Linked DNA regions of Homo sapiens: region 1 is linked to region 2. Evidence: fine-mapped expression QTL. A gene starts in region 2. The other region holds a variant in brackets. All regions are shown on one strand. Distances are from middle to middle. Region 1 holds the start of LINC00654 (long intergenic non-protein coding RNA 654). Region 2 holds the start of LINC00658 (long intergenic non-protein coding RNA 658).

Region 1 (5,376 bases), 57 kb after region 2:
CACACATGGGAATTTGCAAAAGGAGAGAGTGAAAGGCCCAGGGCATTTCTGTGGTCTGTACTAACCCTCAAAGATACTCTTGGTCTGTGTGATCCTCATTTTCAAATTAGAGGCTAAAGATGGACAAGGCCGGTAGCAGAGTGTGCAGGTCGCCTGGCCAGCCCTGCATTTACTCCTCTCTCCAGGCAGAGTGGCCAGTGCCACTTGCCCACGCAGCAGTCACGTGAGGTCCATCCTCTGGGAAGGTCCTCCCTGATGGCCCCTCTGCGATTCTGACCACAGGATGCCCGCAGCACAGCAGAGTCCCAGGTGGAGCAGAATCGGCCATGAGAATAAGCTTGGTTCCGAGGACTTTCTGCTGTTATGTCTGTAATTACTAAACTTTTTTCATATAATTGCATTTTTCAAACATATAAGGATGACAAAAAAATAATATAACAGGTAAACAGAAGTGCCATTTTGCTTCCACGGCTCCGGCCTCCTAAGGGGCAGGAAAGCAGGTGACCTTATTCCTGGTATTAAAATGGCATGGCTGGAGTTCAGGTGGGCTGATGGGAAGCTGTGCATCCTATAGCACCCTGGAATGGCTGAAATTAAGTATTTTATATGGCAAAATTGACTCATGGAGCAGAAATAGCCTGCTCATATGGACATGGAAGCAAGATGTCCTTCAGGCCCCTAAACCTCTTCTGAGCCTCTTCGCCTGCAGATAGCTGGGCAGGCGTGTCTGACCATCCCATGTGGCCAGGGTCCATCTTCAGCAGTTGTGGATTGAGGCCTTTGTCCTTGTCTGTGCTGATTTGAGAGGTACTGGAGAAAGGCTGTGGTGTCTTGGTCTTCGTCTCCAGTGTTAGCCACTGCAATGGCAGGGGGAGGAGGTGGTGGGCTGAGAGCATGGACAGTGCAAAGGCAGTCATGGCTGATTGCTAGAGAGAAAGATGAAGGAGACATTAACTCTTCTCCTGAAGCACAAATCAGAACAGATATTTTTCACGTGTTGAGCATGTATGTGCCCCACCTGGGTACTGGGCAGCATTTCTGATTGAACACTGCCGCAGTGCTTGATGCAGGTTTACGTGAGCCCCAGTTTCACGAGGGGGTCCCCTCTCCTCCCTCCCTTGGATGTCTCATGTCTCCATCTGCACTCTTAGTGGCCTGGTCTTTCTCTGAGACAATTCCAGGCTGGTTCCCCTGCTTTGCTATCCCCCACAACCTCTCCCACACCATTGCCCAGCTCCCAAGAGCTCACTGTGGCTGAGGAAAGGGGGTGCCTTGACACGGAGTTCCCTTCACATGAGGGTCCCCAGACATTCCTCCTGGAAGTGCTCCACCAGGACCCCTGCCACATGTGCCTCTTGGTGCAGGGAGGAGAGGAGAGCAGGTTGTGTCTGATGTGGGTGTGTCTGTGTGCAATGGCTGCTTGTATCCTTGTGTGTTGTGTACCTGCTCAGCAAACTGAGTCCTGTGGCCAAGAATGATCCTGGGCAAAACTGAGCACATTTAACCCAAGTTTGATTTCAACTCAACACTTTCCCACTGTGCCTCCTTCTCATCCCAAATGTGCCAAATACTTCTAATCTTAGTATTCATTCTTTGCTTTGTCTGTCAGGTCCTGTTCTCTACGAGTGAATATCCTAATGACCATAATAAAGCCAGTTCCCTTTTTGGGGACTGACATTTGTTGAGAACTCCCCCTATGAATGCTGTCTTGCTGCAAAACTTCACCTCTGGATAAAGTGGCTGTGCTCCTTCTGGATGTCTGCATCAGGGCTGCTGAGGCACAGCTGAGAATGCACCACACAGCTGACTACGCTGCTGAGCAAATCTCATTACTAAATGCACATCCCTTTCAAGGATGCCAGGCGTTAGGGCTGCATTGCAACTTTGATGGACACTGGGGATTAATGCCTGTGTGTCCTTGTTCCATTAAAAAGTTTGAAGTTTGCTGGGTGCGGTGGCTCACACCTGTAATCCCAGCACTTCGGGAGGCCAAGGCGGGCAGGTTACGAGGTCAGGAGATCGAGACCATCTTGACCAACACGGTAAAACCCTGTTTCTACTAAAATACAAAGAAGTAGCCAGGCGTGGTGGTGGGTGGCTGTAGTCCCAGCTACTCGGGAGGCTGAGGCAGAAGAATGGCTTGAACCTGGGAGGAGGAGGTTGCAGTTAGCCGAGATGGAGCCACTGCACTCCAGCCTGGCAACACAGCAAGACTCTGTCTCAAAAAAAAAAAAAAAAAAAAGAAAGAAAAAGTTTGAAATTTGATTTTATGAGTTACTGGTATAATGATAAATATATTAATATCATAGGCCAGGCGTGGTGGCTCACACCTGTAATCCCAGCACTTTGGGAGGCCGAGGCGGGTGGATCACGAGGTCAGGAGATCGAGACCACGGTGAAACCTCATCTCTACTAAAAATACAGAAAAAATTAGCCGGGCGCAGTGGCGGGCTCCTGTAGTCCCAGCTACCCGGGAGGCTGAGGCAGGAGAATGGCGTGAACCCGGGAGGAGGAGCTTGCAGTGAGCCGAGATCACGCCTCTGCACTCCAGCCTGGGCGACAGAGCAAGACTGCGTCTTAAAAAAAAAAAAAATCACATAGTTCAATTTTTTTTTCTTCTGACTGAAATTGACACTCTTTGGTGGGCCTGTAAGTTTCCTGGCCCTGGTCACTGTGCCCACCCTGCCCATGGCTAAGGGGTCCTAGCAGCAAGCATGTATGTGGCTGGCCCCTACACCCTCCCACTCTGCCAGAGATTTTTTCCAAAAGGAATCTCCCTGCACGGAGGGCGGAGCTCGAGATCTCCATGTCGCGGGGTGGCTCCGAGGTCACCACTGCCCAGCATGTCTCTGGCTGCTGACAGGACTCTGTGCTTTCTTAACTCCTTGATGGAGTTCCTGGAGTTGGAGGGAAGCGCTTCCCACCAGAAACCCACTTGTGTCGGTTTTTCTTCCATTCGAAACAAATGATCAAAGTGATAGCGTTTTCTATGTTACGTGTCTGTCTCTGGTCACTTAAAAACAAAACAGAGCAGGGTGTCCCCTGACAGCCCAGGAGAAGAACAGGAAGGCAGCCCTGGGGTTACCTGTCAAGGTTCAGATCATGACCTCCGCAACGGCCACGGCTGGGTGACATC[G/T]TCACTCCCCAGGGGACAGGCGATCCCCTCCTCACCCCACAGCTCAGACCCCAGGATCGGCCCCAATCCCTGTGTCCTGAGCTCCTCCTACTTCCCCTTTCCATCCCAGCCAGCTCCGAAGGAGGCCGGCCCTGTGAGACAGGGAGGGGTCCAGCCTGGGACCCGGCCTGAGCCGGGAGGGAGGGCTTGTCTTGCTCCGGCCCCTGTGATGAGTCCCCTCTTACCCGGCAGGTGGTGACTCCCCATCCGCGGAGGCTCCCCCGCTGACCCCAAGTCCCCACCGCTCTGTCCTTCTCCAAGGCCCGGTGCAGGAGCACCCTTTGTCCCTGGGTGGCCTGACCCTGCTGACCACGGGTCACCTCCCTGACCACGAATACTCTGCCAACTGCCTCCTGAGTGACCGAGACAGCTCAGTCTAGAGTCTCGACTACCCGGGGTGACCCAATAGTCCCGACTCCCCGAGACAGGGACCCGGAGACGTGGGCTTTGTCAGTTTAACAGATTCTGCCTCCGGGAACCAACTGCCGGGAGATTCTGATTGGCTCAGCCGCGTGCCCACGTGACCGACCAAAACCGGCCACCAGGGTCTCCCAACTGCCTGTCAAACGCACAGCCCTGTTGGGCCCCCGGAGAGGAAGAGCCGAGAAGGAGGCCAGGCCGGGGGTCAGGTGGCTTCCTCTATGGGCCCTTTAATCCACCTCACTTTTTTATCTTCTTTTTTTTCCCAGCAGCTTTATTAAGTTATAATTCACACACGATGTAATTCGCCCATTTAAAATGTACAATGGGCCCGGCGCGGTGGCTCACGCCTGTAATCCCAGCACTTTGGGAGGCCGAGGGGGCAGCGGGGATGGGGGTGGCGGGTCACCTGAGGTCATGAGTTCAAGACCAGCCTTGCCAACATGGCAAAACCCTGTCTCTACTAAAGATACAAAAAATATCCAGGCATAGTTGTGTGTGCTTGTAATCCCAGGTACTCGGGAGGCTGAGGCAGGAGAATCGCTTGAACCTGGGAGATAGAAGTTGCTGTGACCTGAAATCGCACCACTTCACTCCAGCCTGGGTGACAGAGTGAGACCCTGTCTCTAAAATAAAATGAAATAAAATAGAATATACACTGGTTCTTAGTATAGTCACAGAATTGTGCAATCATCGGCACCATCTAATTTGAGAACATTTTCTATATATATGTAGAGAAAGGGGTCTTGCTATGTTGTCCAGGCTGGTCTTGAACTCTTGGGGTGAAACCATCCTCCTTCTTCAGCCTGTGCAATACCTATGCTTGCACGGGTGCAAGCATCAGCATTACAGGCATGAGATGCCTCACCTGGCCCAGAACTTAGTTTTTTACTGAAAAATATTCCCTTGTATGCATATATGATATTTATCCAGTCATCAGCTGATGGACTTTTGAACTGTTTCCACTTCTGTTTATTATGAATAAAGCTGCTATGAGCATTTGTGTAGAAGTTTGTGTAGATTTATGTTTTCATTTCTGCTTATATAAGTAGGAGTATAATTTCTGGGTCAAAGTATAACTGTGTAGTTTTTGAGAGGAATTGCCAACCTGTTTCCCCTCTTCTTTTTTTTTTTTTTTCTTTTTTTTTTTTTTCAGAGATGTGGTCTCACTCTGTCACCCAGGCTGGAGTGCAATGGCACAAACACCACTCACTGCAGCATCAACCTCCTGGGCTCAAGTGACCCTCCTGTCTCAGCTCCTTAAGTAGCTGAGACTACAGGAACATGCCACCATGCCTGCATAATGTTTTTTTGTTTGTTTCTTTGTTTGTTTGTTTGTTTGTTTGTAGAGACAGGGTTTCATCATGTTGCCCAGGCTGCTCTCGAACTCCTGACCTCAGGCAATCCACCCATCTTGGCCTCCCAATTGCTGGGATTACAGGCATGAGACACAGCACCTGGCCGCCAATCTGTTTTCTAAAGTGGCTGCACCATTTCACATTCCCACCAGCAGTGATGAGGGTTTTTTCCTCCATCCTTGCTAACACTTGTTCTTGTCTGTAGATTTTATCATAGCCATCCTAAGGGGTAGAAGGTGGCATCTCATTGTGCGTTTGATTTGCCTTTCCCTAATGACTAATGGTGTTGAGCATCATATCATGTGATTATTGGCAATTTGTGTATTATCTTTGGAGAAATGTCCATGCACATTTTTCACTCATTTTTCACTTAGGTTATTTTCCTTTTGTTGAGTTGTAAGAGTTCCCTGTGTATTCTAATAC
Region 2 (5,376 bases):
CTAGTTCTCTGGTTATCCCATCTGAAGTCCAGCTACCTCTGGAGAACAGCAAGTGGATGTGGATGAATTTGTTCTCAGTGATTCCTAGAGCTGGGTCTGAGTCTTGGGATGCAATGGAAGCCTCTTTCCTCTTCATTAGGCCCATTTACTGAAGAGCCTGAGTTTCAGAAGAGTTAGTGGACTTGCTCAGGTCTTGACAGATAGTTGGAATTGAAGGCTAAGTTTCTCCAGACCACGACAGAGGTTGCCATGGAGGTGCAGAGAAGATAATGAAAATCATGGTGGTAGATGGAGGTGGAAGGGGTAGTTGGTAAAACAGAGTAGGCACCCCAGAAATTATACTAAATCATTTTTTAAATTATTTTTAGTAATTAATGCATTCCTCCCCCTATATGGCCAGAGTTCTTAGAGTTGGGAGAAATCTTTGAAATTATTTGGATCATTCCTGCCTCCCAAGACTGGCAGAGAGGCACTGAGGCTCTCCTTCATCATCTTTAGGGATAAAGAGCTCATGCATGAATGGGGCTGGGGGTCCCTGGCAAATTCCGACCACTGGGGAATCTCTTATCAAAATTTACAAAGAGGAAGCAGGAAGCTCCTTGTTTCCAGTGTATATCACTCTTAACTAAAGCTCAGAGAAATTAAGATATTCTCTATGGCACTACTCAAAACCATGCACCATGATGAGTTGGCAGGATCAGAAGAAAGACCTTTTGCGGATGCCTACCTAGAAGGTTGCAGTGGATACTGGAATTTGGGTTTAGAAAGAAAAGGACAAGGGGATGCTACAAATAATGTCAAATTGAGGCTTTCAGTTTGTGTGGGTCAATATTAGCTTGTTGGGAAACAAGTGCCAGGTAGTCTGTGACATTCAAGGCCCTGATATCCTAAGAGTAAGGAAGAAATAGTGTTTAACAATATTCATCAGAGCAGTGGAGTATAAGAAAAGTCCACATATGTTCTGTGAGTCAGCATGCTGGGACTGAATTTCTAACCTCCTGGTTCTTAATTTCCTCATCTGTATAATGAGAGACTTGTTGAAGATCTTGCTAATATTCTACAGTGGGTTTTAATTTTTTTACATACTTGGTGAAAAAAAAAACAAAACCTCATTTTTTCCCCTCAATCTGATACTAGCTGGTCTAAGTCTCCATCCTTCAGGTTAGAGGAGCACTTTCCCTCAGTCATGTTTTCTACGAATCTCTAGGTGTCTTGCAGTCTAGAACATTCAAGTAAGGATTCCTGGTCCTCTGAACACTTTGGTCCCTTTTAAAGGTCCATGGCGCCGGCTACCTTGAAGAGGCAACTTGGATGTTCTCCAGACAAACTTGGACATGGGAATGTTCAGAAAAATGGGAGTTTGCGCTCTGGGGGTCCTGGTTCTCTGGTTAACCCATCTGAGGTCCAACTACCCTCTGGAGAACAGCAAGGAGACAGATTTGTTCTCTGTGATTCTTAGAGATGGGTCCCAGTCTTGGGAAGCAATGGAAGCCTCTTTCCTTTCCCATTAGGGCCATTTACACCTTTCCCAACTTTTGGTTTCTTTCTCCGGGCCATACACTGAATCCATTGTCATCATATGCTTAATTTTTCTATCACATAAGCCCTCAGTGAAGGATGTCTTCTGGGTGTCTAAAAACATTCTGTTTTTAACCATATGTCAGTTTATCTTTGGTTGTGTGCTGAACATGGTATTTGTAAAATACTTGTTGAAATAATTTGAGGGCAAGGATAATGTTACCTTCCTCTGAGGAGGATTTGATTTGTCTTTGCAAGGCACCTCAGGGAGCTTGCAATTCAAGATCAGGTTAATTCAAGCACAGGACTTTTTACCAAGCAACTTAGAAATATTTAAATAATTGAACAATTGATACAGCTGTACAGGTGCCTCCCAAATGAATATCAGCCCTAAATGCCCCCAATACTTAGGTTAAGTTCTTGTTAATATGGCTATATAACATATCACTCCCAAATTTAGGATTTGAAACAATAATTATTTCTCACGGTTTCAGTGGGTTAGCTCAGAAGCAGCTCAGCTGGGTGGTTCAAACTCAGGGTCTCTCATGATGTTGCAGTCAGATGTCAGTAGGAACTGGAGGCTCCAATTCCAAGGTGGCCCACTTACAAGGCTGGCAAAGTGGTGCTGGTGATTGGCAGGAACCCTTAATTCTTCTCCATGTGAATCTGTAGATGGAGCTGCTCGAGAGTCCTTGGAGAGCGGTGGCTGGCTTCCGCAGAGAGAGAGATCTAAGAGGTGGAAGATACAATGCCTTTTGTGACCTAGCCTCGGAATTCACACCCCATCACTTCCTCCACATTCTATTGGTCACCCAGAGCCAGCCCTGATTCAATGCGCAAGGGAACTAAGAAGGACATGAATACGAGGAGGCAGGAACCATCACAGGCTGTCTTGCAGACTGGTTACCACACACAGAAATTGGGACTTGAATCCAGGCCTCTCTGATGTCAAAGTCCTTGTACTTCACTGTGCTGCCCTCCCCAAGCAGCCTCTTGAATCTGTGGATCCCTCTAAGTGTAATGTCACCTTCAGCCTGCAACAGTACAGAATGGATAAAGTAGTGATATTAAACATGCTGTAAGAGAAGAAGAGAAGCCTAGGCTCCTTGAGCATGATTATAAAATGGGGACCAGTGAGGAGAGGATAGCCTCAAGAAGAAGAATTGAGAGGGGCTTGGTTAACTATCCCTAACTGGACATTCTGCTTTTTGCTGTTCCTGGCATCAGCTATCAGAAAGTCTCTGTGGGTGAGTTTCTGAGCACTCTTTTATGCCATTAACTACACTCTTGCGAAGCTTCTGTTTGAAGGGTTTGGATTTTCTTAGGCAGTGCCAGGTTTTCAGAATAGAAATTGACTGGTTTCTCCCCCAGAAAGTCTATAGCCTACCGTGTTTAACCCCAACCTCTAGTAATAGCTCAATCCACGCTGATCCCCCAGGGTTTGCAGAACAGAGTCTCGGTTGCAAACACTGCAATCAGCAGCTTGCTGTTTTTCTCTTTTTCTTCCACTTTATTTTATATTGATATTTAATGAATGTTTCTTTGGTGGTATTGCTATGTTCATTATTTAAACTCTGAAAATTGAAGCCATAGAAAATAATTGTTGATTCACCACAGGGAGCCATATAAATATTGTTCTAAATTCTAATGACCATGACCATTGGGATTATTTTTTGTGAAGCATAATTTCCATTATTTTGAAAGCCCTCAAGTCAGTATCTTAGAAGGGCAGCTGTTTTCTTGGCTATTTTCAATAGGTTTTTCTTCTTTCTTCATTTTTCCTTCCCTCCTTACCACATTAGACACCCTCCTTTTATTTCTTCCCTTGCCATTGTATTGTTTTTTGTTTGTTTGTTTTTGTTTGTTTTTGAGACAGATTCTCACTCTATCACCCAGGCTGGAGTGCAGTGGTGAGATCTCAGCTCACTGCAACCTCCGTCTCCCGAGTTCAAGCGATTCTTCTGCCTCAGCATCCCGAGTAGCTGGGACTACAGGCGCACGCCACCATGTCCGGCTAATTTTTGTATTTTTAGTAGAGACTGAGTTTCACCATACTCTCCAGGCTGGTCTCAAACTCCTGACCTCGTCATCTGCACGCTTTGGCCTCCCAAAGTGCTGGGATTACAGGTGTAAGCCACCACGCCCAGTCTGTATTGTTATTTTTATTGCTATTGTTAATATAAACGAGGCCTCAGGACTTAGAGCTTCACAACTAAATAATACCTGTGTACATCATTTTGTATTTTCAAGTTGTTTTTACAAATATCATCTTATCTGATGCACATTATAACTGAATGAGATAAATGGGACAAACGTCATCCCTATTTACAGATAAGGACAAAATCCCAAAGATTTGCAGAGCTACAGGGCTGGTTAGAGCAGGTCCCTCCTCCAAGAGCAGATCTCCCTCCCTTAGTATTATCTCACCCCTCCGGGCCTGGGAAACCTAAAGATACTTTGTGAACGCATGTCTGTATCTACAGAAAGCTCTGCTAGTTAAAGAAACTACCCTAGACCAAGCTGCGCTCTAAGGGGCTGGTGAGCTCTGTTATTTTTAAAATTACTTTAAATATTTTTTCTTTTTAATTAAAATAATGAGTCAAACATAGGGAGGATTACAGAAAATAATTTGGAACCAATCAGATTTATCTGAGGTGACCTTTTGCCACAGATGCTTGAAGTCCATCCATCTCTCTTATGAAATGAAATGTTACAGAAACAGCTCATTCTCTCCCTCCTCACTACTCCTTGCCTCCCTCCCAAGGCTACTTCCATCCTGAGTAGTGCTTTCTTCAGTTGCATGTTGATCTACTGTTATATACAAGAATGAGTTACAAGTCATATGCCATCAGCTTTGCATTTTGCAAGAATTTTCACAAATATTATGCTATCGCATGTACAGACTTTAGGCTCACTGCTGAACAATGCCCTGGGCTTCTTTCATTTTTCTGCATGTCTCACTCCTCTGGCTATGCCTGTTTGGGCTGGGAGAGAATACAGGGAATGTCCAAGATATTAGCAGTTCCTATGGCAGCAAGTGCTGGTTTCTGTGACTGTGGTTCCCTAAGAGAGGCAGAAAAGCAAGGGGACTAAGCTTCCACTGTGCACTTAATCGCAGGGCCATAGCCCAAGTAGGTTGTAAAGGCCGATGACATCCCAAGACAGGCTGGAACTTGAACTGACATTTTACAGAGGAAAACCAGGCCCAGAAAAGAGAATGGTTGCTTTAATGTCACACTTCCAGAAATTGGTAAAGCAGGAACCATCTCAGAGCTTATGACACCTTTGTACTAAACACATTGCCTTTAGGCAGTCTTATTCTTCATCCAGTAAACAGCAGACCATGGATTTGATTGTTTTCTTTCTTTTCTTTTCTTTTCTTTTCTTTTCTTTTTTTTTTTTTTTTGAGACGGGAGTCTTGCTTTGTCGCCCAGGCTGGTGTGCAGTGGCGCAAACTTGGATTTGATTGTTTTCTTGCCTCTGCTCCCCTGAGGAAAATGCCAGCAAACTATAAAATTTCATTCCCTGAGATCCTGGCAAGCTACATTGGACTTAGGTGTCTGCTGTTTCTGGGAGGCAGCAAGGATCTGAGTTTGGGGGAAGATCAGGTCACCGGGCTGAAGAGTAGCCCGAAGATCTTTTTTACCTGGATCGCCCTCTGGTGGCAGATTCGATAACAACCGCTCTAATTCATCATCTGAAATGCAAAGTGGTTGCAGCTCAAGTTTTCCTTGCTCCTCTTGGGACTTGCTCGTTCCTCATTAAAGCATCCCTATGCCCACTCTATACAAGACACATTTACTTTGAGCTGCATCCCTGAGATAATCGACTCCAAGCCAATATTTCTGTGTGTCAGTC

Evidence for each region. PIP is the estimated chance that this variant, and not a neighbour inherited with it, causes the effect.
Region 1: its variant is the best candidate, but not a certain one, in a credible set for the expression of LINC00658 in caudate (GTEx, PIP 0.64).

What each region holds. Positions count from the first base shown.
Region 1 is chr20:5,500,938-5,506,313 of GRCh38, forward strand. It overlaps LINC00654 (long intergenic non-protein coding RNA 654), which reads right to left and starts at 3,659. Exons shown (of 2, transcript NR_015406.2): 1 at 3,361-3,659; 2 at 1-926. LOC124904863 (a long non-coding RNA gene) reads left to right here. Exons shown (of 3, transcript XR_007067509.1): 3 at 1,610-1,665. RefSeq lists an enhancer at 3,405-3,514. The variant G/T (reference allele first, on the strand shown) is at 3,137.
Region 2 is chr20:5,443,500-5,448,875 of GRCh38, forward strand. LINC00658 (long intergenic non-protein coding RNA 658) reads right to left here and starts at 2,249. Exons shown (of 5, transcript NR_038240.1): 1 at 2,005-2,249.